Regions from separate parts of the Homo sapiens genome. Here region 2 is linked to region 1. Evidence: fine-mapped expression QTL. A gene starts in region 1. The other region holds a variant in brackets. All regions are shown on one strand. Distances are from middle to middle.

Region 1 (14,574 bases):
CTGCCTGCATCTTCATGTGGGGTTCTCCCTATGTGCGTGTCTGCACCCAAATTTCCTCTTTTGATAAGGACAGCAGTCATACTGCGTCACGGCCCACCCTAATGATGTCATCTTAACTCATTATATCTGCAATGACCTTTTTCCAAATACGGTCACATTCTGAGGCCTTGGGGATTAGGACAGGAACCTGTGCATTCTGTGGGGACATGACTCCACCCACAGCACATGCCTACACACGTACACATGTGCGTATTCCTAATAAAGACGTGGGCTGGGCGCGGTGGCTCACGCCTGTAATGCCAGCACTGTGGGAGGCCGAGGTGGGTGGATCGCTGGAGGTCAGGAATTTGACACCAGCCTGGCCAACATGGAGAAACCCTGTCCCTACTAAAAACACAAAAATTGCCAGGCACGGTGGCTCACACCTGTAATCCCAGCACTTTGGGAGGCTGAGGTGGGAGGATCACGAGGTCCACAGTTCGAGACCAGCCTGGTCAACATGGTGAAACCCCATCTCTACTAAAAATACAAAAATTAGCCGGGCGTGGTGGCGGGCACCTGTAATCCCAGCTACTTGGGAGGCTGAGGTAGGAGAATAGCTTGAACACGGGAGGCAAAGGTTGCAGTGAGCGGAGATCCCGCCACGGCACTCCAGCCTGGGACAGAGCGAGACTCCGTCTCAAAAAAAAAAAAAAAATTTTTTTAACGTGAATATATATTTTTTATTTAGTCATTTTTGCTTACAGTTGAAACTCTAGAGAATCTGCGTGAAACTAGATGGCAGCCGGCTCATAAAGGTTCATTTGGACAAGGCACAGCAGAACAATATGGAACACAAGGTTGAAACTTTTTCTGGTGTCTATAAGAAGCTCATGGGCAAGGATGTTAATTTTGAATTCCCAGAGTTTCAATTGTAAGCAAAAATGACCAAATAAAAAATGTGTATTCACAGTTAAAAAAAAAATTCTACAAAAAAGTAAAACCACAAAAATTAGCTGGGCATGGGGGTGCACGCCTGTAGTCCCAGCTACTCAGAAGGCTGAGGCAGGAGAATCACTTGAACCTAGAGGCGGAGGTTGCAGTGAGCTGAGATCGTGCCACTGCACTCCAGCCTGGGTGACAGAGCGAGACTCCCTCTCAAAAAATAGTAAATAAATAAATAAAAATATAGGCTGGGCGTGGTGGCTCCCGCCTGTAATCTCAGCACTTTGAGAAGCCAAAGTGGGCCGATCACCTGAGGTCAGGATTTCAAGAACAGCCTGGCCAACATGGCAAAACCCTGTCTGTACTAAAAATACAAAAAGTAGCCACGCATGGTGGTGCACACCTGTAGCTCCAGCTACTCAGGAAGCTGCGGCACAAGAATTGCTTGAACCTGGGAGGCAGAGGTTTCAGTGAGTCAAGATCGAGCCACTACACTCCAGCCTGGGCGACATGGCGAGACTTTGTCTCAAAAAAATAAATAAATAAATAAAGTGAGGTCCTGGCCAGGTGCAGTAGCTCACACCTGTAATCCCAGCACTATGGGAGGCTGAGGCAGGAGGATTGCTTGAACCCAGGAATTTGAGGCCAGCCTGGACAACATAGTGAGACCCTGTCTCTACAAAAAAAAATAATAATAAAAGTAAGCAAACAAATGTGAGGTCCTATTCTGCTGTGTATTATACCAGTGCCTTCATGCTGTAAGCTTCAACTGCAACCAGTTCTGTTTACTCAATAATATCGCTCAGATAAAGGGTATTTTTTACTATTATTATTTTTTGAGACATGGTGTCTCGCTGTGTCACCCAGGCTGGAGTGTAGTCATCGGATCTCAGCTCACTGCAACCTCGAACTCCTGGGCTCAAGTGATTCTCCTGCTTCAGCCTCTCGAGCAGTTGGGACCACAGGTATGCACCACCACATCTGGCTGATTATTTTAATTTTCGTACAGATGGGGTCTTGCTTTGTTGCCCAGCTCCCAGGCTAGAGTGCAGTGGCTCAGTCTCAGCTCCCTGCAACCTCCACCTCCCTGCAACCTCCACCTCCCGTGTTCAAGTGATTCACGTGCCTCAGCCTTCAGAGTAGCCAGGGTTACAGGCACACATCGCCATGCGAGACTAATTTTTGTACTTTTAGTGGAGATGAGGTTTTGCCATGTTGGCCAGGCTGGTCTCAAACTCCTGGCCTCGTGATCCTCCTGCCTCAGCCTCCCACAGTACCACAGTACCACAGTACTGGGATTACATGCCCCCATTAATTTTTTTTTTTTTTTTTTGAGATGGAGTCTCTCTCTGTCGCCCAGGCTGGAGTGCAGTGGCGCCATCTCTGCTCACTGCAAGCTCCGTCTCCCGGGTTCATGCCATTCTCCTGCCTCAGCCTCCCGGGTAGCTGGGACTACAGGCGCCCGCCACCACACCCGGCTAAGTTTTTGTATTTTTAGTAGAGACGGGGTTTCACTGTGTTAGCCAGGATGGTCTCAATCTCCTGACCTCGCGATCCGCCCGCCTCGGCCTCCCAAAGTGCTGGGATTACAGGCATGAGCCACCGCGCCTGACCTTAAATTTTTAATAGATATTAATCAACATGGATGTGTGGACTTTTCTCCACCACCCAGGGAGAGTCAGGGTGTGGTTGGTTCTCCCAGGCCACGGACAATCTCAAGCCTCCTGGGGCTTTTTATAGAGGCAACTTCATACAGGCATTGCTTAAACAGATGCTGGAGAGCTGAGAAGGCGACAGGGAAGCGGAAAGAGAGCTACTGCCCCTAGCATCCCCTGGCCCCGGGGCTGGCAGAACACAGGGCTGGTGGGACAGGGATCTCAGGCCTCTGAGGAGGGGCACCCCACTGCTGCTGGGCCCTCAGGAACTCAGGGAAGCAATCTGAGCCTCAACTGTGGGACTTGGGCAATTTACTCAACTTCTGTGCCTCAGTTTCTCCATCTGTTAAGTGGGATAATTGCTTTGTCTACCTTTATGACGTTGCTGGCTGGGATTGTCCAGGGAGAATCAAACACCTGTTACAGAAAACGCTCTAGCTCAGTGGTTCTCATCCGGGGCCAACTCTGTCACGCCAGGAAATACCTAGTAATGTCTAGAGAGATTTTTCATTGTCGGACTAGGGGGGTGCTACTGGCATCTACACGGTTGAGGCCAGAGATCCTACACGGCCCCCACCACAAAAAATGATGTCCCAAACGTCAGGAGTACCGAGGTTGGTCAGGCACAGTGGCTTACGCCTGGAATCCCAGCACTTCGGGAGGCCGAGGCGGGCGGATCACCTGAGGTCAGGGGTTCGAGACCAGCCTGGCCAACATGGCGAAACCCCATCTCCACTAAAAAGACAAAAAACTTAGCCGGATGTGGTGGCACACGCCTATACTCCCAGCTACTCGGGAGGCTGAGGCAGGAGAACTGCTTGAACCCAGGAGGCGGAGGTTGCAGTGAGCTGAGATCGCACCGGTGCACTCCTGCCTGGGCGACAGAGCGACTCTCCGTCTCAAAACACAACACAACAACAAAAAGCTCCGAGTTCCAGGCCCTGCCGTGCCAGGAGGTCACCGCGCTTCGTTACAGCTCCTCCCCGTTTTGCTCTCAGCGCAAGGACTGACCAGCATCAACGTTAAAACGTAAATCACAAGACTCACAGAATGCGCTCCTTCTGGCAATGGTAGACCAGATACTGAACAGGACCTGAGGCCAGGAGGGTCCTGGCAAAGACTGAGTCACGCAAAGACTGACTGAAGAGGCCGGGCGCAGTGACTCACGCCTGTCATCCCAGCACTTTGGGAGCCCGAGGCGGGCAGATCATGAGGTCAGGAGTTAGAGAGCAGCCTGACCAACGTGGAGAAACCCCCGTCTCTACTAAAAATACAAAAACTTAGCCAGGCGTGGTGGCAGGCACCTGTAATCCCAGCTACTCAGGAGGCTGAGACAGGAGAATCGCTTGAACCTGGGAGGAGGAGGTTGTGGTGAGCTGAGATCGTGCCACTGCATTCCATCCTGGGCAATAGAGCAAGACTCCGTCTCAAAAAAAAAAAAAAAAAAAAAAAGAGTTCGTCCTTCCTTCCCTCCCTCCCCATCCTTTTTTTTTTTTTTTTTTTGAGACTGGGTCTCACTCTGTCGCCCAGGCTGGAGTGCAATGGCGCGATCTCAGGTCACCACAACCTCTGCCTCCCAGGTTCAAGCAATTCTCCTGCCTCAGCCTCCCGAGTAGCTGGGATTATAGGTGGCCACCACCATGCCCAGCTAATGTTTTTTTTGAGATGGAGTCTCACTCTGTCGCCGAGGCTGGAGTGCAATGGCCAGACCTCGGCTCACTGCAACCTCTGCCTCCCGGGCTCAAGTGATTCTCCTGCCTCAGCCTCCCGAGTAGCTGGGATTACAGGCATGCACCACCAGGCCTAGATAATTTTTTGTATTTTTAGTAGAGATGAGGTTTCACCATATTGGCGAGGATGGTCTCAGACTCCTCATCTCAGGTGACCCACCTGCCTCGGCCTCCCTAAGTGCTGGGATTACAGGTGTGAGCCACCGCGCCCGGCCAAGTTGTGTGGTTGAAGCCTCCTGGTATTCTGTTTGGTTCGGTTACTCTCACCTCACCCCCATTTTACAGAGAGGGCAACTGAAGCTTGGTGGCTTGTCAGGGACTGCCCAGATTTGATCCTGGCTTTGCTCCCCTGCTCCCCCGCCTCCACCGTGGCCACCCTCAGATATAAGGAAGTTTCAGTGCAGCCTCAGGAACCCTCACTGCCCACCCCCCCACCTCTGTCACCCCAGGCCTGGGTCACAGAAGATCAAGGAAGCCTCTAGTACTTGACATTCCCCACCCCACCCCGAGGCTGGACTGCGGCCATCAGGACATCCGATGTCCGGCCAGGGGAGGGGGAACGCAGGCTTGGCGTCAGGGGGCTGCTGGTGATGGGCTGGGGACATCAGACTGTGAGGATCTCTCCTGACTCCTCTGTCCTACCCCGAGGGCCTGAGCTTTCATCATGCCTTCCTGACATCTCTAGACAGGGCCTTCTCTGATCTTTACCCTCACGTCCAACCCCCACTCTTGTTGGGGCACATGTCCTCTCCTGTGGCTTCCCCACGCACGCAGCTGAGGCCTTCATTTGGAAGAAGCCCTTCCTCATCTCCCACTGGACTTTTTAATCTGACTCAGTCCCACCCTCCCTCTAACCCCTACCATGGCTCCCTAGTGACCTCAGGGTAATGTCCCAACTCCTCACCTACCTTGTAACCGCCCTTCTTGGTCTGACTCCTCCAGTCCTGTCCCTGATGAGGGGAACTGGGAGGGGTCATCCCTGTCTCCCCTCAAAAGCAGGGGCTTCAGAATCTTTGGGGCTCCTCAGCAAGAGGTCAGACCTAGTTCCTGCTCACCCCACAAAGTCAGGGCTAGGAAATATTAGCTGGCTTCAAAGGGACAAAAACAGAGGCCAGGTGCCGAGGCTCATGCCTATAATCCCAACACTCTGGGAGGCTGAGCCGGGAGGACCACTTGAAGCCAGGTGGTCGGGACCAGCCTAGGCAAAATGATGAGGCCTCATCTCTACAAAAAATTTAAAAATACTTTGGGTGGCCAGGCGCAGTGCCTCACACCTGTAATCCCAGCACTTTGGGAGGCCGAGGCAGGGGGATCATGAGGTCAGGAGATCGAGACCCTCCTGGCTAACACAGTGAAACCCCATCTCTACTAAAAATACAAAAAATTAGCCGGGCGTGGTCGTGGGCGCCCGTAGTCCCAGCTACTCAGGAGGCTGAGGCAGGAGAATGGCGTGAACCTGGGAGGTGGAGCTTGCAGTGAGTGGAGATGGCGCCACTGCACTCCAGCCTGGGCGACAGGCGAGACTCCGTCACAAACAAACAAACAAAAATACTTTGGGTGGCCAGGCGCGGTGGCTCACGCCTGTAATCCCAGCACTTTGGGAGGCTGTGGCAGGCGGATCACTTGAGGTCAGGAGTTCGAAAGCAGCCTGGCCAACATGGTGAAAACCATCTCTACTAAATATACAAAAATTATCTGGGGGTGGTGGCGCTCGCCTGTAGTCCCAGCTACTCGGGAGGCTGATACAGAACTGCTTGAACCCAGGAGGCAGAGGTTGCAGTGAGCGGAGACTGCGCCATTGCACTCCAGCCTAGGTGACAAAGCAAGACTCTGTCTTCAAAAACAAAAACAAAAAAACTACGTTGGGTATGGTGATTCATGCCTGTGATCTCAGCACTTTGGGAGGTCAGGAATTTCGAGAACCGACCCACAACATGGCGAAACAGCAACATGGCGAAACCCCGTCTCTACTAAAAAATACAAAAAATTAGCCGAGCGTGGTGGCAGGTGCCTGTAAGCCCAGTTACTTGGGAGGCTGAGGCAGGAGAATCGCTTGAACCCGGGAGGTGGAGGTTGCGGTGAGCCGAGATCGTGCTACTCCACCCCAGCCTGGGCGACAGAGCAAGACTCAGTCTCAAACAACAACCACCACAACAGCAAAAGGACAAGAATGCAGAGATGTGTTGGCGCTTTAACCACACCCTGCCTCCTCCGCTGGATCTTCTCCAAAGGGAGGCGGGATTGTGCCTGATTCTCGACCTACAAAGGAGGCTGAAAAAGCAGTGGACAGTGAGGCACCTGTTCCTCCACACTCAGGTGGCATTCCGCAGCCAGCACATAAAGAGGTCACGTGGAGCTGAGTTCAAATCCCACATCTGCCTCTTGTTAGTCCCATGCCCGCCACAGTCCCATGCCCATGCCCGTCTTTGTGAAACTCAGTTTCCTTATCTGTAAAAGAGGCATGAAGGGCTGGGCGCAGTGGCTCGCACCTGTAATCCCAGCACTTTGGGAGGCCGAGGCGGGCGGGTCACCTGAAGTCAGGAGTTTGAGACCAGCCTGGCCAAGATGGTGAAATCCCGTCTCTACTACAAATACAAAAATAAGCTGGGCGTGGTGGCGGGCGCCTGTAATCCCAGCTACTCGGGAGGCTGAGGCAGGAGAATCGCTTGAACCCGGGAGGTGGAGGTTGCAGTGAGCCGAGATCGTACCATTGCACGCCAGCCTGGCGACAAAGTGAGACTCCATCTCAAAAAAAACAAGAAAAGGCAGTGGAGGGGGTCATGAAGGCTGCACACTGTGCCTCACGTCTGTAATCCCATCTCTTTGGGACCAGTCAGGGCAACATAGCAAGACTTCCATCTCTGAAAAAATTAGCCAGGTGTGGTGGCAGGCACCTGTAGTCCCAGCTACTCAAGAGGCTGAGGCAGGAGGATCTCTTCAGCCCGGGAGGCCAAGGCTACAGTGAGCTGTGGTCACACCACTGCACTCCAGCCTAGGTGACAGAGCAAGACCCTGTCTCTAAAAATAAAAATTAATAATAAAATAAAATAATAGAGCATGAAGTGGTGTAAGACCTCCTAGGGATCTTGTGGGATGAAAGGAGATGAGGAATGGGAAAAACATTAGTTTTTTTGTTTTTGTTTTGAGACTGAGTCTCACTGTGTCACCCAGGCTGGAGCACAGTGGTGCGATCATAGCTCACTGCAGCCTTCGTTTCCTGGGCTTCAGTGATCCTCCCACAGCAACCTCCGGAGTAGCCAGGACTCCAGGTGTGCACCACCACACCTGGCTAATTTTGTTGTTGTTGTTGAGACAGGGTCTTCCTCCGTCGCCCAGGCTGGAGTGCAGTGGCGCGATCTTGGCTCACTGCAACCTCCACTTTCTGGGTTCAAGCGATTCTCCTGCCTCAGCCTCCGGAGTAGCTGGGTTACAGGCACCCACCACCACGCCTGGCTAATTACTGTAATTTTTTTTTTTTTTTGAGATGGGGTCTTGGTCTGTCCCCCAGGCTAGAGTGCAGCGGCACGATCTCAGCTCACTGCAACCTCCACCTCCCGGATTCAAGCCGTTCTCCTGCCTCAGCCTCCCGAGTAGCTGGGATTATCTGCGCCCGCCACCACGCCCAGCTAATTTTTGTATTTTTAGTAGAGACAGGGTTTCACCATCGTGGCCAGGCTGGTTTCGAACTCCTGACCTCGTGATCCACCCGCCTTGGCCTCCCAAAGCGCTGGGATTACAGGCGTGAGCCACCGCGCCTGGCCCAATTTTTGTATTTTTAGTAGAGACGGGGGTCTCACCATGTTGGCCAGGCTGGTCTCGAACTGCTGACCTCAAGTGACCCCTTCACCTTGGCCTCCCAAAGTGCTGGGATTACAGGCGGGAGCCAGGATCCCTGGTCCCTAGGCTAATATTTCAAAAAGTCATCTTTCATTTCCCTCAGAGGACTCTAAAGGGGAACGTGCCAGGAGGACTCTAAGTGGGAACGTGCCAAACAGAGAGGAAGGAATTGAGGTTCTTATCTCTCCTCAACCCTTTATCTCCCCGAGTCGTCTGCCCCTTATCTCTCCTCCTTCCTTTCTAGGTTCTGTGTCTTGACCTCTTTTACCCCTCCCGCCCATTTTCAGTCTAGTTTTCATAAAACAGTGTGTGACCTGCATCACCGTGGGCAGCCGGGGCCGTGGACCCCTTGGCTGTTTGAGCCTTGGGTTTTGTTTTGTTCTGGTTTTTGAGACGGATCTTCGCTCTGTCGCCCAGGCTGGAGTGCAGTGGTGCGATCTCAGCTCACTGCAACCTCAGCCCTCCCAGGTTCAAGAGATTCTCCTGCCTCAGCCTCCCAAGTAGCTGGGATTACAGGCACAGCCACCACGCCCAGCTATTTTTGTATTTTTAGTAGAGATGGGTTTTCACCATGTTGGGCAGGCTGGTCTCGAACTCCTGAGCTCAAGTGATCTGCCCACCTTGGCCTCCTAAAATGTTGGGATTACAGGCTTGAGCCACCGCACCTGGCCTAATTTTTAAAATTTTTTATAGAGATAGGGTTTCAGCACATTGCCCAGGCTGGTCTTGGACTCCTGGGATCAAACAATCCTCTCACCTCGGCCTCCCAAAGTGCTGGGATTACAGGCATGAGCCACCATGGCAGGCCAATTATATAACTCCTGTACCCGTTCTAGATCAGGGGAGACCCAAGCTCCAAGAGGTTAAAAGACTTGTCCCAGGCTGGGCGCAGTGGCTCACGCCTGTAATCCCGGCACTTTGGGAGGCCGAGGCGGGCAGATCACAAGGTCAGGAGATCGAGACCATCCTGGCTCACACGGTGAAACCCCCGTCTCTACTAAGAATACAAAAAATTAGCCGGGCACGATGGCGGGCGCCTGTAGTCCCAACTGCTCCGGAGGCTGAGGCAGGAGAATGGCGTGAACCCGGGAGGTGGAGCTTGCAGTGAGTTGAGATCGCGCCAGGGCACTCCAGCCTGGGCGAGAGAGCCAGACTCCGTCTCAAAAAAAAAAAAAAATAAAATAAAAATAAAATTACAAAAATTAGCCGGGCGTGTTGGCGGGCACCTGTAATCCCAGCTACTCAGCAGGCTGAGGAAGGAGAATCTCTTGAACCCAGGAGGCGGAGGTTGCAGTGTTCTGAGATCGTGCCACCGCACTCCAGCCTGGGCGACAGAGCCAGACTCCGTCTCAAAAAAAAAAAGACTTGTCCCAAGTGGAGCAGCAGAGAATCAGTGGAACCAAGTCTGGATCCAACGATTCTCCTTCCATACTGCAAGGACCTTTTGTTTTGTTTTGTTTTGTTTTAGAGCTGGGGTCTTGCTGTTGCCCAGGTTGGAGTGCAGTGGTGCAATCATACCTCACTGCAGACTGCAAGGCCAAATATACTGCTGTAGGCCGGGCGCGGTGGCTCGTGACTGTAATCCCAACACTTTGGGAGGCCAAGGCGGGTGGGTCACTTCAGTTCAGGAGTTTGAGACCAGCCTGGCCAATATGGGGAAACCCCGTCTCTACTAAAAATACAAAAATTAGCTGGGCGTGGTGGTGGGTGCTCGTAGTCCCAGCTACTCGGGAGGCTGAGGCAGGAGAATCGCTGGAACTCGGGAGGCAGAGGCTGCAGTGAGCTGAGATTGCAACACAGCACTCCAGCCTGGGTGACAGACGGAGACTCCATCTCAAAAAGAGAGAGAGAGAGAGAAAGAAAGAAAGAAAACTGCTGGAGACCCGCCCGATGCAGAGGCTCATGTTTGTAATCCCAGAGCTTCTGGAGGCCAGGGTGGGAGGCTTGCTTGAGACCAGGAGTTTGAGGTCAACCTAAGCATCATAGTGAGACCCTGTCTCTCCAAAATTAAAAATACAAAAGTTAGCCACATGTGGTGATGCGTGCCTGTAGTCCCAGCTACCTGGGAGGCTGAGACAGGAGGATTACTTGAGCCCTGAAGATTGAGGCTGTAGTGAGCCATGATTGCACCAATGCACTGCAGCCTGGGCCACAGAGCAAGACCGTTTCTTTCTTTCTTTCTTTCTTTTTTGAGGCGGCGTTTCACTCTTGTTATCCAGGCTGGAGTGCAATGGCGCGGTCTTGGCTCACTGCAACCTCTGCCTCCTGGGTCAAGCGATTCTCCTGCCTCAGCCTCCAAAGTAGCTGGGATTACAGGCACCTGTCACCACGCTCGGCTAATTTTTGTATTTTTAATAGAGACGGGTTTCACCTTGTTGGCCAGGCTGGTCTCAAACTCCTGACCTCAGGTGATCCGCCCGCCTCGGCCTCCCAAAGTGCTGGGATTACAGGCGTGAGTCACCGCGCCCGTCTCAAGACCCTGTTTCTGAAATAAATAAAAAGAGGAAAGAAGAGAAAATGCTGCTGGAAGGAGTAGGGCCTGAGTTAGGGGGAACCGCACACACCCCCTGGAGGAACTTGAAACCCTCAGTCCGGTGACCCGTTTGTGGGAGGACGTTGGTTGGACGGGGAGGGTCGCGCGCACAGGCCTGGGAGTCACAGACGCCTGACTCACTGCGAGCCTCGGGCAACTCTGTTCCTCGCCTGTAAAATGAGAGTGAAATTTGCGTCACCACGTGGGGCTCTTTGCAGGCAACGCTCGTTAAAGGCCAGCTGGTACTATTATGTTGATTACCCCCATCATTACCGTTAGTAACCAATTAATTAGTGTTGTTGCGTCCTCTCCGCGCCCGATCGCGTCTCTCTAGGCCGGGGAGTCAGCGGACCCCGAGGCCAGCTCGGGCTCAGACCTCCCCCCAACCCCAAATCCAGAGCCCGTCCCACTCGCTCCACCCCGGCCCGCAGTGGGCTGTCCAGCTCCGGGTGGACTGGGGTGGTGCGGGCCTGGAGGCCGGGTCTGGGTGGGAGCCGGCGGTGCCCTCTGGTCCATTTCCTTCCCCAGTCTATGGGGGTGCCGGCCACTCCTGCGGCGCGCTCGGGGTTCGCCCTCATACCCGGCGGGCGCTAGGACCGCGTGGGCGCCCGTCGTAGAGGCGGAACGAGCCCTGCGGCCACGCCCCTCTCCTCTCTCCTTGGCGATTGGCTGCGGTTCCCCGGGGCGCGGCTCCGATTGGCTCAGGCACCGGAACCTCCCCGCCCTGCCCCGCCCGGCGCAGTCGCCCGGCTCTGGGGCCCGGCGGCTGCAGAGTCGAGCGTGGGGCGGACGCGGCGGACGTGGGTGAGGGCGCGGCCGTAAGAGAGCGGGACGCGGGGTGCCCGGCGCGTGGTGGGGGTCCCCGGCGCCTGCCCCCACGGCACCCAAGAAGGCCTGGCCAGGGTACCCTCCGCGGAGCCCGGGGGTGGGGGGCGCGGGCCCGGCGCCGCGATGGGCCCGGGACCCCCAGCGGCCGGAGCGGCGCCGTCCCCGCGGCCGCTGTCCCTGGTGGCGCGGCTGAGCTACGCCGTGGGCCACTTCCTCAACGACCTGTGCGCGTCCATGTGGTTCACCTACCTGCTGCTCTACCTGCACTCGGTGCGCGCCTACAGCTCCCGCGGCGCGGGGCTGCTGCTGCTGCTGGGCCAGGTGGCCGACGGGCTGTGCACACCGCTCGTGGGCTACGAGGCCGACCGCGCCGCCAGCTGCTGCGCCCGCTACGGCCCGCGCAAGGCCTGGCACCTGGTCGGTAAGCGTCCCGGCCCCGCCACCTGTCGGGCAGCCCCTCCGAGACTCCGCGACCCGGGCGCCTCCTCCCTCTGACTCACCACCCGCCGTCTGCCTGCCTCAGGATCGGAGTCTCCCCTCGGTCTGTCTGTCCCGTGGCCCGAGCTTCCCTGCACTGTCTGTCCACGGCCTTAACCTCCCCTATGTATCTGTCTGCCCTATGAGCTGAGTTTTCACCCCTCTGTCTGTCCCCTGGCCCGAACCTCCCCTGTCTGTCTGTCTGTGCCCATGGCCTGAGCTTCCTCCATCAGTCCCACCACCCAGCCCCCTCTCTCTGCCTGCCTGGGACCTAAGTCTCCCCTGTTTGTCTGCCCCATGAGCTGAGTTTTCACCCCTCTGGCTGTTCCGTGGCCTGAGCCTCCCCCGTCTGTCTGACTACCCAGTGGCCCCTCTGTGGTGTCACTCCTGAGCCTCCCCTGCCTGTCCCACCATCCAGCATCCCCCGTCTTTCTGCCCCATGGCCTGAGCCTCCCCCGTCTGACTGTGCTGTGCCTCCCCCATCTGTCTGACTGTGCAGTGCCTCCCCCATCTGTCCAACTGTGCAGGGCTTCTCTATCTGCCTGAGCCATGAGCCTCCCCCATCTGTCTGTTTAACTGCCCCGTATCCCCTCTGTCTGTCCCTTGGTCCAGCCTCCCCTGTCTGCCTCAGAGCTGCTGTCTGACCTGCGGGGCCCTCACCATCTGACTACATGACTTTCTAGTGGGAATGCCTTTGTTTGTCTGAGCCCCCGGGCCACCCTGAACCCTCTGGAGGGTTGGTGGTGACTGCTCAGCGCCTCCTTTGTCAGTCTGTCTAGCCTGAGCTCGTCTATTAGGGTGACCAACTGGGACAGCTATGGCTGAGGGACAGTCAGGCCCCCTAGAGCCTCCTCTCTCTCTGTGTGTTCTGCCAGGGCAACCTGGTGCGTCAGCAGTTTGAGGGTGCTGCTCCGGGAGTTGAGAGTTGGGAGCCGCCTGGGTGGGACTGGAGGGTCAGGGGTCTCTGCCCTGTTCTTGCATTGCCTCTATCTGTCTGGCCAGGGTCAGGGACCCCCTAGGTCTGGGGGAGCTGCCCTGATTAGAGAGGGCTGTTGGGAGGGCAGGAGGCTGGCGTCATGGGCTGGGTCACCCTGCCCCAGTGCCCATCGATAAGACTGCAGGGCTGCCTCCCAGCGGCCCTCCTCTCCCCTCCCGGACCCTGGGCCTGAAGATTAGCCGGCCTCCTTCCCTGCTCTTCTTGCCCTCACAGAAGTGCCGGCTGCGTCCTGGCATTTGGGACACATGTGGCATTTCAGCAGGCAGGGCCAGGAATCCTGCTCAGTTCTTGGAATTCCAGGTGGCAGGAGGGGCAGGCGGGTGCCTCCTCACCCTTGGGAACAATGACTGGGATGGGTGGTTGGACCCAGGATCTGGGTGATGACATTTTTTGCAAGAGGCAGTGGATCTCCAGTGGTCTGAGGGTGGCAGGCTCCGCAGCAGGCACAGCTTGGGGACTGGAGTTTCATGTTTCCTATGTCCAGGCTATTCCTGGGGTACCTGAGGCGGCGGCAGACAGGGAGGGGACCGGCTGTCCCTTCCTTTGTGGTTACGTTGGGATTGGTTGCTGAGCGGAGCCCAGGGCCCCAAATGCCTCTTTGATCATAATAGTTGGATAAGCTCTTTGACAGTCGCGTAAGATAATTTCTGGGCGGGCCGGGCACGGTGGCTCACCCCTGTCATCCCAGCACTTTGGGAGGCCTCCTCACCTGAGGTCAGGAGTTTGAGACCAACCTGGCCAACATGGCAAAACCCCGTCTCTACTAAAGTACAAAAATTAGCCGAGCGTGGTGGCGCACGCCTGTAATCCCAGCTACTTGGGAGGCTGAGGTGGGAGAATCGTTTGAACCCGGGAGGCAGAGGCTGTAGTCAGCCAAGATCGCGCCACTGCACTCCAGACACAGCGAGAGTCTGTCTAAAAAAACAAAAAACAACAACAACAAACCAAAACAAGAAAACAAACAGAAACAGCAACCGAAGGCTTTATGTTTTTCCAAAGCAGACCTCAGGGAACCAGGTGGTCCAACCGGACACCAAGGCGTCCACCGTCACCCCTCTTCCCCGCCTCGGGGAGGGCACCTGCCCTGGGAGCTGAGAGGTGGGGGCCACCTGGGTGGGCCTGGAGGGTCAGGAGGGTCTGTTGGGAGCAGAAGCCCAGGCAGCCGCTCTTGATGCCTGAGCAGGTGACTTGAGTGAAGGTTACCCTGGCAATGGCACCCACTTCTGTATTTCACCCCCAAGTCTGGGGCTGGTGGCTAAGGACTCACTTTGCCCTTTAACAAGTCCTGGGGAGCTCCCCCACAATCCCGAGACGACCCTCAGAATCAGACACAAACACTCCTGTGAGTGGGCAGATGGCACAAATGGGCTTCAGAAGGAAGGACATTAACTTTGAGGTTTTGACGGATGGGTAGCAGTGTGTGGAGGGGCGCATTCCAAGTAGCAGAAACAGCTGTGGAAAAGGTAGGAACAGTCCTCACTTTGAAGCTGCGGAAGCAGGAAGTGGTTCAGAATAGACGGAGCTTTTGCTGGTGCCACACATGAACTCTATCCTCACAGCAGCCTGTGAGGCAGGAACTTTCTTTCTTTTTTT
Region 2 (14,574 bases), 69 kb after region 1:
GTCCTGAAGCTCCTATGTCGTACGGTTGGGTCTCAATGGTCCCCAGTGCCCTGCCAGCTCGCACAGGCCTGCCCTCTGGTTTCTGATGACCCCTCTTTAAAGGTGTCACTCTCCTTTGATGGTCACCTGTGCTTAGGTGGCTACACTGCCCTCGTCAAGCCCAGGCAGCCTTGCTGACGCCACTGTTCACCAGAGAGGGCTGCCAGCATGCCATAGCCAGCCTGTCTTGAGATGAAGCATCCGCCAGGTTCTCAGCCGATCTGGAAAGAGAGGGGTCCCTTCTCCCCTTGGCTGTGTTCTTTTATCCTAAGTCATTCAACAAAGCGTTGGTGGTTTAGAGCCCGACTCTGGAGCCAGACTTCCTGGATTCCTAACTCTTCACGCTGCTCCCAAGCAAGTTCCCAAGCACAGTCCCAAACTGTGCCTCAGTTTCCTCACCTGTAAAATGGGGACAATCTTAGTAACTACCTCACAGGGTAGTGATGTAGATCGAATGAATTAATGAATGTAAAGAGCATGGAGTGCCTGGCGCGTAGCAAATGCTACATAAGTGTCAGCTGCTATTGTCACGGTTGTCGTTTTTATTTTATTTATTTATTTTGAGACAGGGTCTTGCTTTGTAGCTCAGTCTGGAATGCAATGGCACGATCTCGGCTCACTGCAACCTCCGCCTCTCGAGTTCAGGCGATTCTCCTACCTCAGCCTCCCGAGTAGCTGGGATTACAGGCGCCCACCACCACGCCCAGCTAATTTTTGTATTTTTAGTAGAGATGGGGTTTCACCATGTTGGTCAGCTGGTCTCGAACTCCTGAACTCAGATGGTCTGTCCACCTCGGCCTCCCAAAGCGCTGGGATTACAGGCGTGAGCCACCGCGCCCAGCCGGTTATTGTTTTTATTGAGGCCCTACTGCGTGCAGGTCATTGCACTAAGTGCTGGGAATACAACAGTGACCAAGATAGACTCAGTCCCAGCCTTCAGAGTTCTATTCTAATGAGGGATAAGACCAATCACAAGCAACTAAACCAATACTTTCCAATATGATATCTAGGAGTCTTAGGCGCCGTGGAGAAAAATAAAGCTGAATAAGTGAAAAGAGATGGAAGAGTAACATTGTCCATTGTGATCAGGGAAGGCTTCCATGAGGAAGTGATGTTGGAGACCCAGGAAAGCAAGAGGATGAGCACGGGTGTTCCTGGACCAAACTGAGGGTCGGGCTGCTATTTCTCATGGTCCAATAACGAGATGCAGATTAACTGGGGAGGAAGAGAGTTTTTATTTCTGTAACCGGTTACAGGGAGAAGGCCTGGAAAATATCGCCAGACCAACTCAAAATGACAAAGTTTTCCAGAGCTTATATACCCTCTAAGCTCTCCATCTACATGTAACTGAGCATCCATCTAAAGACTTAAAGTGACTAACTTCTTTTAATCTATAACTAAGATCTGAATCCTGAAGACTTTCCTTTGGAACCTCAGTAAATTTACTTAATCTAAATGGGTCCAGGTGCTGGGGTGATCACCCTTATCTCATCTCCAGTGGGTCCAGGTGCTGGGGTGATCATCCTTATCTTGTCTCCTGCTAAATCATGGAGGTTTGGGGAGTTCTTCAGACACCCAGTAAAACTTGTTTCATCCTAAACGGGTCACATTAAGAATTCCTTCGTTATTGGCTGGGTGTGGTGGCTCAAGCCTGTAATTCCAGCAGTTTGGGAGGCTGAGGCGGGTGGATCACCTGAGGTTGGGAGTTCGAGACCAGCCTGACCAACATGGAGAAACCCTGTCTCTACTAAAAATACAAAATTAGCCGGGCATGGTGGTGCATGCCTATAATCCCAGATACTCGGGAGGCTGAGGCAGGAGAATCACTTGAACCCTGGAAGCATAGGTTGTGGTGAGCCGAGATAATGCCACTACACTCCAGCCTGGGCAAAAGAGCGAAACTCTGTCTCAAAAAAAAAAAAATTCCTTCATTATCTTGTCATGCCTTAAGGCCCAGGAAAGGCCTGGGCAAAACTCTTCATGGGCTTTTGTTACATTCCAGCCTTTGTATGAGGGCACTGGCTCTTTTAGCTTTTAATGTTTAACTTAACCACTCAGTCAGTGCTGAAACAGTTATGGAGGCCTGTGTTAGTGAGGCCTGGCCTGCTACGTGGGGACATCTAGGGAAGAATGTTCCTCATGGAGATCACAGCAAATGCAAAGGCCCTAGGGCTGCACTGGGCCTGGCGTGTTGGAGGAACAGCGAGGAGGCCTGTGTGGCTGGAGTGGAGCTAGAGAGGGAAGAGGTGATGGGAGATGGTCATGAAGGGCCTTTGGGACTGTCAAGTAGTTGAGTGAGGAGGCATAGGAGGATTTTAAGCAAGGGAGTGATATGGTCCAGTTTACATATTGAAAGTACTTCTGAATCTGTTATCTAAGCTGTGTAACAAAAATCCCCATAATGGCTGGGGGTAGTGGCTGATGCCTGTAATCCTAATGCTTTGGGAGGCTGAGGCAGGATGATCACTTGAGCTTGGGAGTTGGAGACCAGCCTGGGCAACATAGAAGTGAGACCCCATCTCTACAAATAATAAAAAAAAAATTAGCTGGGCATGCTGGTGTGTGCCTGTAGACACAGCCACTAGGAAGTCTGAGGCAGGAGGATCACTTGAGACTGGGAGTTCGAGGCTACAGTGAGCCGTGATCATGCTGCCGTACTCCAGCCTGGCGACAGAACAAGATCCTGTCTCAAAAACAAACAAAAAAACATACTTGGTTACCTTCAACAACAGTAAACAGTGTCGCACACAGTTGCTCTGGGCCTGGCTTAGCTGGCTGGCTCTGGGTCTGGCCTCTGGTAAGGCCTCAGTGGAGACGCTCTGGGGCTGCATCATCTGAAGGTTCGCTTGGGGCTGGACGAGCTGCTGCCAGCCCACTTCTCTCACATGGCTGTTGGTGGGAGGGCTCAGTTTTTTGCCACGTGGGCCCCTACAAAAGACTGCTTGAGCATCCTCACAACATGGTCACTGGCTTCCCCTAGAGAGAGAACAAGGATGAGACTGTTGTGCTTTTTATGCCCTAACCTTGGAAGTCTTGCTCTGTTCCATCTTCTTGGCATTCACATGGGTCAGCCCTGTTCAGAGTGGGAGA[G/A]GACTATATAAAGCCTTGAATATTGGGTGGGGATCGCTATATAAAGCCTTGAATATTGGGTGGGGATCGCTAGGGCCATTTTGGGGGTCAGCTGTCCCTCTGGCTGCTGTGTGGAGAGCAGACAGTGGAGGTCATTTCTGATAGGCCTATAGGCGAGAGGCAGTGCAGAGACTGAGGCCCAGAGAGGGAAAGCAACTTACGGAAGGCTGCACAGCTAGTAGGGAGGTTGGAGCTGAGCTTTCAGCGTAGATGCTCAGGTTGGTCAGTGGGTAGGAATTTGCCCCACCCAGGTCCTAGGAACAGACAACGCACTGGTGAAGGGGGCTTCTAACCTGGGCTCTCATTTTTCTGCCACAGGTTCTTACATCCCCGCGTCCCCAGGTTTAGCCTGAGCAGGGTTGTGGAAGGCCGGGACCCATTGACAGCACGATGGTGACGGAGCAGGAGGTGGATGCCATCGGGCAGACGCTGGTGGACCCCAAGCAGCCCCTGCAGGCCCGCTTCCGGGCGCTGTTCACGCTGCGTGGGCTCGGCGGCCCAGGCGCCATTGCATGGATCAGCCAGGCCTTCGATGACGATTCCGCCCTGCTCAAGCACGAGCTGGCCTACTGCCTGGGCCAGATGCAGGATGCCCGCGCCATCCCCATGCTGGTGGACGTGCTGCAAGACACCCGTCAGGAGCCCATGGTGCGCCATGAGGCAGGTGAGCACCTGTCTGTGTCCCGGGCACCTGCTCCCTCCTGCCTCACTTCTTCATGACCCCACGTGTCCCCTTCCTCACTCAGGTGATAAATATCAGAGTGGTCAACTGCCCCATAGAGCACCAGATAGTAAATACCTGCAGCTCTGCAGCCAGACAGCGACTCAATAAAGCCAGCGCAGGTCATCTGTCACCAAATGGCTAAGGCTGTGTGCCCAGACAACCTCAACTGGGCAGGGGGCGGTGGCTCAGGCCTGTAATCTTAGCACTTTGGGAGGCCCAGGAAGGTGGATCGTTTGAACTCAGGAGTTCAAGACCATCCTGGGCAACATGGCAAAACCCTGTCTCTAGAAAAAATACAAAAATTAGCCAGGCATGGTGGCATGCACCTGTAGTCGCAGCCACTTGGGAGGCTGAGGCGGGAGAATCGCTGGAGCCCGGGAAGTCAAGGTTGCAGTGAGCCATGATCGTGCCACCGCACTCCAGCCTGGGCAACAGAGTGAGATCCTGTCTGTGAAAAAACAAAAAACAAACTTCATTTGTAAATGCTGAGATTTGAATTTCATATAAATTCCACCCATCAGGAAGTACTATCCCTTTGATTTTTTGTTTTAAACCATTTATTTGTTTGTTTTGAGTCAGAGTCTCACTCTGTCGCCCAGGCTGGGGTACTGTGGTGCCGTCTTGGCTCACTGCAACCTCTGCCTCCCGGGTTCAAGTGATTCTCCTGCCTTAGCCTCCCAAGTAGATAGCGTTACAGGTGTGTGCCACCACGCCTGGGTAATTTTTGTATTTTTAGTAGAGATGGGTTTTGCCATGTTGGCCAGGCTGGCCTTGAACTCCTGGCCTCAAGTGATCCACCTGCCTCGGCCTCCCAAAGTGCTGGGATTACAGGCATGAGCCATCGCACCCCGCCTTAAACCCTTAAAAGTGTTTTAAAAACCATTCTTTGCTCGTATAAAAACAAGCGACAAGCCATAGATCCCCAATCCCTAATGTATATTAGATTTACTCCACTCATTGGACACACATTTAGTGAGCACCTACTGTATGCCAGGCTCTGTCATGTAGTAAGAGACAAAACAGTGACAATACAGATACAAGCCGGGCATCGTGGCTCACGCGTGTGGTCCCAACTACTCAGGAGGCTGAGGCAGGAGGATTACTTGAGCCAGGGAGGTTGAGGCTGCAGTTAGCCATGATCATGCCACTGCACTCCAGCTTGGGCAACAGAGTGAGACCCTGTCTCAAAAAAATGGACTGTTCAGGTCGGGTGCATTGGCTCACGCCTGTAATCCCAGCACTTTGGGAGGCTGAGGCGGGTGGATCACCTGAGGTCAGGAGTTCAAGACTAGCCTGGCCAACATGGTGAAACCCCGTCTCAACTAAAAATACAAAAAAAAGTAGCTGGGCGTGGTGGCCGGCGCCTGTAATCCCAGCTACTTTGGGAGGCTGAGGCAGGAGAATCACTTGAACCCAGGAGGCGGAGTTTTCAGTGAGTGGAGATCGCGCCATTGTACTCTAGCCTGGGTCACAAGAGCGAAGCTCTAAAAAAAAAAAAAAAATGGACTGTTGTAGCGAGGGACCTAGACAGCGAAGGAGACCAGTGAGGCAGGTAGTTGGTGCGTCTGTGCCACTGGGACTGTGTTTCTGTAACCAGTGAGCTCATTTGCAATTAGCGCGTGGGAGGTGCCTGACACAGAGCCTGTGTTGGCGCATACGGGACTTTTCCCGGCAGAGGGAGCCTGCCAGGCAGGTGCACAAACGCAAACCGCAACCTTCAGGAAAGGCAAAAGCCACCAGCTCAGCTGCCTCACAGGCAGGGCCCTTGAGCTCGATTCTGAGAAAATTCAAGGAACATCTGCACCCAGGGCTCTACGGGGAGCCGCCGCCAGCCTTGCTCCGACCTGGGCTTGCGACGCCTGCACTTGCGCCTGTACCCGAACCCACCTAAGTGTAGCCCCAGTGGCCCCAAATTCTGGAGTCTCCAGCCGGCAGGCCCGGCCTGTTTTGGGAATTTTTTTTGTTTGTTTTTTTGAGACAGGGTCTCACTCTGTCGCCCATGCTGGAGTACAGTGGTGTGATCATAGCTCACTGCACCCCCGACCTCCTGGGTTCTTGGAGCTGCTTGTCAGCTGTGATCCCGAGTTGTAGGGATATACTTGTCTCCCTGTCTCATGGTACGGGCCGGGATGGGGTCCATTTTGCTCTGAGCGGCAGCCAGGTGCGGTTCCAGGCAGTGCCTTGCTCTGGGGAGGGGATGCTGATTGGTCCAGCGGGGAGCCTGTACCGACTGCTGCTCCAATCAGCCGTGGACAGAGGCGGGGCTTCCCCACAGTGGCAGAGCCCTGGGAGGGGTGTCCTCCGGTCCCAGAGGTAGCCGGGCATTTTCCACACATCCACCCCACCAACATGAGCTCTCCGGCTGCTTCTTCCCAGGGGAGGCCCTGGGGGCCATCGGGGACCCGGAAGTTCTGGAGATCCTGAAGCAGTATTCCTCGGACCCCGTCATCGAGGTAACCAGGCCCCTGCTTGTCTCCCTGCCAGTCTCGGGTCCCTGGGAAGCCCTGCCCAGCCCTGCCCCAGCCCTGACCTGGAGCAGCCTCAGACCCTCCCCATCTCTGGTTGCCAGGGCGACCACTTGGCCAAGGATGCCCCAGGGATGAGGAAGGCGAGGGCGACAATCTGGACAGACACTTGCTGCGCCCCATTTGGCAAAACGGCGACAACCAGCTTTGCTCACCCGCTTCCATCCCGGGCCTTGAGCCCCTGAGCCGGCCTGACCCCCTTTCTCTGAACCCCCACGTCCAGTCCCTCTGCCAAGACCCCTCTGAACCCACCCAGTGCCCTCTACCTCTGATACCTTGTCCTGGCCCACCAGACCTCTTCAGAGATCTCCTGCTACCTTCCAACATTTCTTCTTTTTTTTTTTTGAGACGGTGTCTCGCTCTGTCGCCCAGGCTGGAGTGCAGTGGGCGCGATCTCGGCTCACTGCAAGCTCTGCTTCCCAGGTTCATGCTATTCTCCTGCCTCAGCCTCCAGAGTAGCTGGGACTACAGGCGCCTGCCACCACGCTCAGCAAATCTTTTCGTATTTTTAGTAGAGACGGGGTTTCACCATGTTAGCCAGGATGGTCTCGATCTCCTGACCTCGTGATCCACCCGCCTTGGCCTCCAAAGTGCTGGGATTACAGGCGTGAGCCACCGCGCCTGGCCCAAAAATGAAACAAATTTTTATTTTATTAGTTTTTTCTTTATAGAGATGAAGTCCCGCTCTGTCGCCCAGGCTGGTGTTGAACTCCTGGGCTCAAGCGATCCTCCTGCCTTGGTCTCCCTAACTGCTGGGATTAGGGGCATGAGCCGCTTCGGCCGGCCCGTCATTCCTTTTTGTGGCTGAGTCACGTTCCGTGGTGTGGACGGCCCATGCTGTGTCCACTCACTGTGGCTGGATGCTTGAATTGTCTCTGCTTTTTAGCTGTTATGAGTTATGCCGCCACGGACATGCATGTTCCTTTCTCCCCTGCCACTTCTTGTCCACATCCCACCCCGACCCTCAGTCTCTCCTCCTCCGGGGCAGCCGGGGGTACGTGTGACACTCAATTCTGCTGTTCTGTTCCATGCTTAAAGCTCTCACGATATCTCATCACCTTTAGGACAAAATCCCAAGCCCTTACAGTGGCCCGCAGGCCTTACCTGGTCAGGTGGGGCCGCACATGTTCCTTTGGCCCTCACCCCTCCCGCAGGGTCCTGCCTCAGGGCCTTTCCACCGCTGCTTCCCCATCCCCGGGTCTCCACCTGATTCCCTCCCTAAGCTGGCTTAGGTCTCTGCCTCCACATCACCTCCTCCCTGAGGCCCTCCCCAGCCCTCCAGTCCCCCGGTCACTCACAAGTCAGCCACCCCTGCTGGCTTACTTCCTGCCTGGAATGATGGGTTAGTCACCCTGCCAGTGTCTCTCTCCCCTGCTAAGCTGCCATCCCGGGGGGTGGGGAAGGGCCCCTGCGACCCCCCAGGGCCAACCCGCTGCCTGATACCCCCTCCCCGCAGGTGGCCGAGACCTGCCAGCTGGCCGTGCGCAGGCTGGAGTGGCTGCAGCAGCACGGCGGGGAGCCGGCGGCGGGACCCTACCTCTCCGTGGACCCTGCCCCGCCGGCTGAGGAGCGTGACGTGGGGCGCCTGCGGGAGGCGCTGCTGGATGAGTCCCGGCCGCTCTTCGAGCGATACCGCGCCATGTTCGCCCTGCGCAACGCGGGAGGCGAGGAGGCCGCCCTGGCGCTGGCCGAGGGTGAGGAGGGGCTTCTGGGGTGGGGTCCTGGGCAGTGCCTCGCTGTGAGGTTCAGTGATGGCATCTGTGCAGTGGGGCCGCGGCCTGCCCCCGGGAACGGCATCCCGGGCCTGGCCCCAAGCATTTCCCATGGGGCCTCTTAAGAACCCGTGCAAGCGTCCCTCTTGGTCCCCATAGCTCCCAGCTTTTCCCGCCCCCATAGCTGCGGTCAGTTCCCCCGGGCATCCCTAATCACTGGGGCTGGGGGCAGGGGTGTCTTCAAGGTAGAACACCCCAGGTTGGGCGTGGTGGCTCACGCCTGTCGTCCCAGCACTTTGGGAGGCCGGGATGGGAAGATCGCCAGGACTTTGTGACCTGCCTGGGCAAGATAGCAAGACCCCATGTCTTCGAAAAGACAGAGCTCCCCTTCCCACCCCTCCTGGCCCCAGCGAGTGTCCCTCTCCCCTGCAGGTCTGCACTGTGGGAGCGCCCTCTTCCGCCACGAGGTCGGCTACGTCCTGGGACAGCTGCAGCACGAGGCGGCGGTGCCCCAGCTGGCGGCCGCCCTGGCCCGATGCACCGAGAACCCCATGGTGCGGCACGAGTGCGCGGAGGCCCTGGGCGCCATTGCCCGGCCCGCCTGCCTGGCCGCGCTGCAGGCTCACGCGGACGACCCAGAGCGCGTGGTGCGTGAGAGCTGCGAGGTGGCTCTGGACATGTATGAGCACGAGACCGGGCGGGCCTTCCAGTACGCGGACGGCCTGGAGCAGCTGCGCGGGGCCCCCTCCTAGGGCCCCACCCTCACCCGGAGCTCCCGGAGGACTCTTGAGGGCCGCTCCTCCCCCGCAGAGCTTTGGCGTCTAAACCGGGTGTGTGTAAATCGGTGTCATCGCTTGTGTCTTGCTGGGCGCATGGTTGCTGTCCCCCTCCTCCGTCTGGGACCGAGGAGCTGCCGTTGTGCTGTGACTCCCTGAGTCCCCTGACTGCTCCTCGGGGCCTGGCGCAGGGCTGTAGCGTGGAAGTTTCCAGGCTTGGGGTGGGACTCTGCGGGAGGCTCTGGGATGCCCGGCTCAGGACAGGGGAGGATTGCGAGGGAAGCCAGGGGAGGATCGCGAGGGAAGCCAGGGGAGGATCGCGAGGGAAGCCAGGGGAGGATCGCGAGGGAAGCCAGGGGAGGATCGCGAGGGAAGCCAAGGGAGGATCGCGAGGGGAGCCAGGGGAGGATCGCGAGGGAAGCCAGGGGCAGAGCTGGGGCTCTGGGAAGAGGCTGACGTTATGGTGGCTTCAGCTTCACTAGGAATGGGACACAGGGTCTGGGGGCCTCTGACTCCCCCACCCCGAGGCCTGGGTAGGGACAGGGTGGTGGTCCCTGAGTGGGTCAGGTAGGGCACAGGGGCCAGGGAGGGACAAGCAGACCTCAGAGCGCTGCCCAGATGGAATATTAAATTATTTTTGCCAAGCACTGACTCCTCTGAGTGTGTTGGGTGAGGGGAGCGTGGGAGGGAGGGAGGGGTGGGGGCTTTCAGGGAACGTTCCCCGAGAGTGTGTGGCGTCTGGGCGGGGAGACGGTTGTATCCGCAGCCATTGGCTCTAGGATCTGTCCTGCTGCTGACACTGAGCCACCACCAGCGACAGGCAGGCCTGCACCTGTTTTATGTGCGGTTACCTGGTCAGATCTGCCCAGCCAGCTCCCTCCAAGTGGGCTCTGGGGAAACAGCCCTCCAGCCTGGCCCTTCCCGGACCCCCGTCTTCCCCCAGCTCCTGTTGTGGGTGCAGTGGAAGGGGTTCTGTGGTCCAGCTGAGAGCCCAGACATGGCTTCCTCCGCCGGCTCCCGCAGCCCTTCCATGTGTGGCTGGGGACAGCCCACTTACCTCTCTGTAAAATAGGCATAGCGGTAGAATCTCAGGTGCAGAGCTCCTGGTCTGCAGCCAGAGAGGCCAAAACCAGAAGACAGGAGGCAAAACGCAACGGGAACCGACTATCCACTGAGCCATGTTCTCCACCGGAGTGCTGGATCCTGCCCCGGGGCATCAGTTTAGCTTGTCATGGGGTGGGGGGTGGGGGTGTGCAGCTGGCATCTAGTCAGGTAGTCGGGGGAGGCCAGGGATGCTGGAAGATAACCTCCAGCACTCGGTCCCCACAACAGAGAATGATCCGGCCCCAAATGAGTGCAGAGGTTGAGAAACCTGCCTGGAAGTCACATGTTTGATTATAGGTTTTTAATTTTAATTTATTTTATTATTTTTGTTGAGATGGAATTTCACTCTTATTACCCAGGCTGGAGTGCAATGGCGTGATCTCGGCTCACTGCAACCTCTGCCTGCCAGGCTCAAGCACTTCTCCTGCCTCAGCTTAACAAGTAACTGGGATTACAGGCATGCACCATCATGCCCAGCTAAATTTTTTTTTTGTTTTTTTTTTTTTTTCGAGATGGAGTCTCGCTCTGTTGCCCAGGCTGGAGTGCAGTGGCACGATCTCCACTCACTGCAAGCTCCGCCTCCCGGGTTCACGCCATTCTCCTGCCTCAGCCTCCCGAGTAGCTGGGACTACAGGCGCACGCTGCCACGCCCGGCTAATTTTTTGTATTTTTAGTAGAAACGGGGTTTCACTGTGTTAGCCAGGATGGTGGATGGTCTCGATCTCCTGCCTCGGCCTCCCAAAGTGCTGGGCTTACAGGTGTGAGCCACCGTACCTGGCCTGTTTGTATTTTTTAGTAGAGACAGGCTTTCACCATGTTGGTCAGGCTGGTCTCAAATTCCTGACCTCAGGTGATCCACCCGCCTCGGCTTCCCAAAGTGCTGAGATTACAGGCATGAGCCACCACACCCAGCCTTTTTTTTGCCTCCCCCCGAGATGGAGTCTTGCTCTGTCACCCAGGCTGGAGTGCATTGGCGTGATCTCAGCTCACTGCAACCTCTGCCTCCCGGGTTCAAGTGATTCTCTTGCCTCAGCCTCCCAAGTAGCTGGGATTACAGGCACGTGCCACCATGCACGCCCAGCTAATTTTTGTATTCTTAGTAGAGATGGGGTTTCACCATGTTGGCCAGGCTGGTCTTGAACTCTTGACCTTGTGATCAGCCCGCCTTGGCCTCCCAAAGTGCTGAGATTACAGACGTGAGCCACTGCGCTTGGCTCACTTTTTTTTTTTTTAAATGGAGAGGGTCTCCCTCTGTCTCCCAGGCTGTAGTGCAGTGGCTGATCACTGCAGCTTACTGCAGCCTCAACCTCCTGGGCTCAAGCGATCCTCCTATCTTGGCCTCCCAAGCAGTTGGGACCTCAGGTTTGCCCCACTGTGCCTGAGTAATATTTGTATTTTTTTGTAGAGACGGGGTCTCAGTATGTTTTGTTCTGTGTTGAGACAGGGTCTCACTCTGTTGCCCAGGCTGGAGTGCGGTGGTGCAATCTCAGCTCATTGCAACCTCTGCCTCCCAGGTTTAAGCAATTCTTGTGCCTCAGCCTGCTGAGTAGCTGGGACTACAGGCACATGCCTCTATGCCTGGCTGATTTTTGTATTTTTAGTAGAGACAGGGTTTCACCATGTTGGCCTGGCTGGTCTTGAACTCCTGGCCTCAAATGATCTGCCCTCCTCAGCCTCCCAAAGTGCTGGGATTATAGATATGAGCCACGTGCCTGGCCATCTTGTTTATGTTTTAGAGACAGAGTGTTGCTCTATTGCCCAGGCTGGAGAGCAGTGGCTCGATCTAAGCTCGCTGCAACTTCTGTCTCCCAGGCTCAAGTGATCCTCCCACCTCAGCCTCCTGAGCAGCCAACATCCATTCTACTATGGTTCCGTGGGGCTCTCTCTCTTGCGATCTGTTCTGTCACTTTCTTGTTGGCCTCCAACCTCCCTCATCCTCACTCAGCTGATGACCTTGCTTTCGGCTTCAGTGAAAAAATCAAGCAGACCTTCCGCACACCCCACCAACAGCTGTGCCCGCCTGCCTGTCCCTGTGCCGTGCATGCTGCCTCCCCTCCTGCCTGCTAACGCTGGCTGATGAACTGTTGGTTCTGCTAGCCAAGACTTACCTAAGATCCTTGTGGCTGTGCAACAGATTACTCCAAACTTAGCAGCTTCAAACAGCTGGACTTGGGTCAAATCGTGTCCCCCGAAAAGGCTTGTCCAGGTGGTAACCCCTGGTACCCATGAATGTGACCTGATTTGGAAATAGAGTCTTTGCAGGTGTTGTTAAGGATCTCAGCATGAGATCATCCTGGATTTAGGGTAGACCCTACATCCAATGACCAGTGTCCTTACAGAGACAGAAAAGTGGACCTGAGCACAGAGGCACATGCCTATAGTCCCAGCTACTCTAGAGGCCAAGGCAGGATCGCTTATGCCCAGGAGTTCAAGACCAGCCTGGGCACCATAGTGAGACCCCCATCTCTTTAATTAAAAAAAAAAAAAAAAAGACAAGGCCGGATGCGGTGGCTCACACCTGTAATCCCAGCACTTTGGGAAGTCAAGGCAGGTGGATCACCTGAGGTCAGGAGTTCGAGACCAGCCTGGACAACATGGTGAAACCCCATCTCTACTGAAAATACAAAAATTAGCTGGGTGTGGTGGTGCATGCCTGTAATCCCAGCTACTCAGGAGGCTGAGGCAGGAGAATCACTTGAACCCAAGAGGCAGAGGTTGCAGTGAGCCGAAATCGTGTGCCATTGCGCTCCAGCCTGGGTGACAAGAGCAAGACTCCATCTTAAATAAAGAAGACAAGAAAACCCCCAGAGACAGAGGAAAGAAGACAGATACCTTTCCTGTGGGTCACGAGTCTGGGAGCAGCAAGCGTATCTGGATGTTTCTGGCTTTGGGTGTTTCATGAAGTTGCAATCAAGCTGTCGGCCAGGGCTGCCTCATCTGAAGGCTCAACTGGGGCCGAAGGAGCCACTTCCAAGGTGGCACCTTCCAATGTGACATTGGCTGCCTGAGCCACCTCTTTTCCTCACCAACTCCTCGTCCTTCTCATCAACTCACAGCCATTACTTCAGCCCTTCCCCCTTTTCTCTCCTGCCTCCTTGGTTTCCTCTCTTTACCCATCAACACAGACCAGCTGCAATGTTTTTAAAACAACAAGAAAAAGCTGGGCACAGTGGCTCACACCTGTAATCCCGGCATTTTGTGAGGCTGAGGCAGGTAGGTCACTTGAGGTCAGGAGTTGGAGACCAGCCTGTCCAACATGGTGAAATCCTGTCTCTGCTAAAAATACAGACATTAACTGGGCATGGTGGCACATGCTTGTAGTCCCAGCTACCTGGAAGGCTGAGGTATGAGAATTGCTTAAACCTGGGAAGTGGAGGTTGCAATGAGCCGAGATGGCCCCACTGCACTCCAGCCTGGGCAACAGAGGGAGAGGGAGTCTTAAAAGAACACCACCACCACCAACAAAACAAAACCCTGGAAAGTAGTCCCAGCTATTTGGGAGGCTGAAGCAGGAGAACCACTTGAACCCGGGAGGCAGAGGTTGCAGTGAGGAGATCATACCACTGCACTCCAGTCTGGGTGACACAGCGAGACTCTGTCTCAAAAACAAACAAAAATATAAAAAGCCACCCTCACCGGGCGCAGTGGCTCACGCCTATAATCCCAGCACTTTGGGAGGCTGCGGTGGGTGGATCAAGAGGTCAGGAGATCGAGACCATCCTGGCTAACACAGTGAAACCCCGTCTCTACTAAAAGTACAAAAAAAAAAATTAGCCGGGCGTGGTGGCGGGCGCCTGTAGTCCCAGCTACTTGGGAAGCTGAAGCAGGAGAATGGCGTGAACCCGGAAGGCAGAGCTTGCAGTGAGCTGAGATCGCGCCACTGCACTCCAGTCTGGGCGACAGAGAGAGACTCTGTCTCAAAATAAAATAAAATCATAAATAAAATAAAATAAAAAGCCACCCCCTTTTTTGTAGAGACAAGATCTAGCTGTGTCACCTAGGCTGGAGTACAGTGGCACAATCTTAGCTCACTCCAGCCTCCAGCTCCTGGGCTTAAGCAATCTTCCTGCCTCAGCCTCTCAAGTCCCTGGGACTACAGACATGAGCCACCACCTGGCAAGGGTCACACTTTTTTTTGTTTGTTTGTTTTTGAGATGGAGTTTCGCTCTGTTGCCCAGGCTGGAGTGTAGTGGCGGGATCTCGGCTCACTGCAACCTCCGCCTCCCGGGTTCAAGCGATTCTCCTGCCTTAGCCTCCCGAGTAGCTGGGATTATAGGCACATGTCACCACGCCTGGCTAATTTTTGTATTTTTAGTAGAGATGGGGTTTCACCATGTTGGTCAGGCTGGTCTTGAACTCCTGACCTCATGATCAGCGTTCCTCAGCCTCCCAAAGTGCTGGGATTACAGGCGTGAGCCACCACGCCCGCCCGGGAAGGCTCACACTTCTACACATTGTTGAATTTCCTCCTCCCAACACCCCAGGAAACTTTACCCACCCCATTGTAGAGAGAAGCCAGGGAACCCTGGAGAGCCAAGGTCATGCTGTGACGGGCAGAGCTGGGA

The links.
Region 2: its variant is fine-mapped to the expression of MFSD12 in lung (TOPMed, PIP 0.95).

What each region holds. Positions count from the first base shown.
Region 1 is chr19:3,554,460-3,569,033 of GRCh38, reverse strand. MFSD12 (major facilitator superfamily domain containing 12) reads left to right here and starts at 11,448. Exons shown (of 10, transcript NM_174983.5): 1 at 11,448-11,928. The coding sequence starts at 11,631. RefSeq lists an enhancer at 10,609-10,903 and silencers at 11,013-11,562, 11,603-11,672, 11,853-12,022.
Region 2 is chr19:3,485,799-3,500,372 of GRCh38, reverse strand. DOHH (deoxyhypusine hydroxylase) reads left to right here. Exons shown (of 5, transcript NM_001145165.2): 2 at 3,487-3,832; 3 at 6,269-6,345; 4 at 7,874-8,111; 5 at 8,562-9,549. The coding sequence starts at 3,559. The coding sequence ends at 8,881. LOC105372245 (a long non-coding RNA gene) reads right to left here and starts at 4,258. Exons shown (of 4, transcript XR_936262.3): 1 at 4,219-4,258; 2 at 3,330-3,422; 3 at 2,760-3,015; 4 at 1-438. LOC105372246 (a long non-coding RNA gene) reads right to left here. Exons shown (of 5, transcript XR_936264.2): 2 at 12,118-12,245; 3 at 9,963-10,281; 4 at 9,757-9,851; 5 at 9,012-9,098. RefSeq lists a silencer at 6,031-6,231. The variant G/A (reference allele first, on the strand shown) is at 3,130.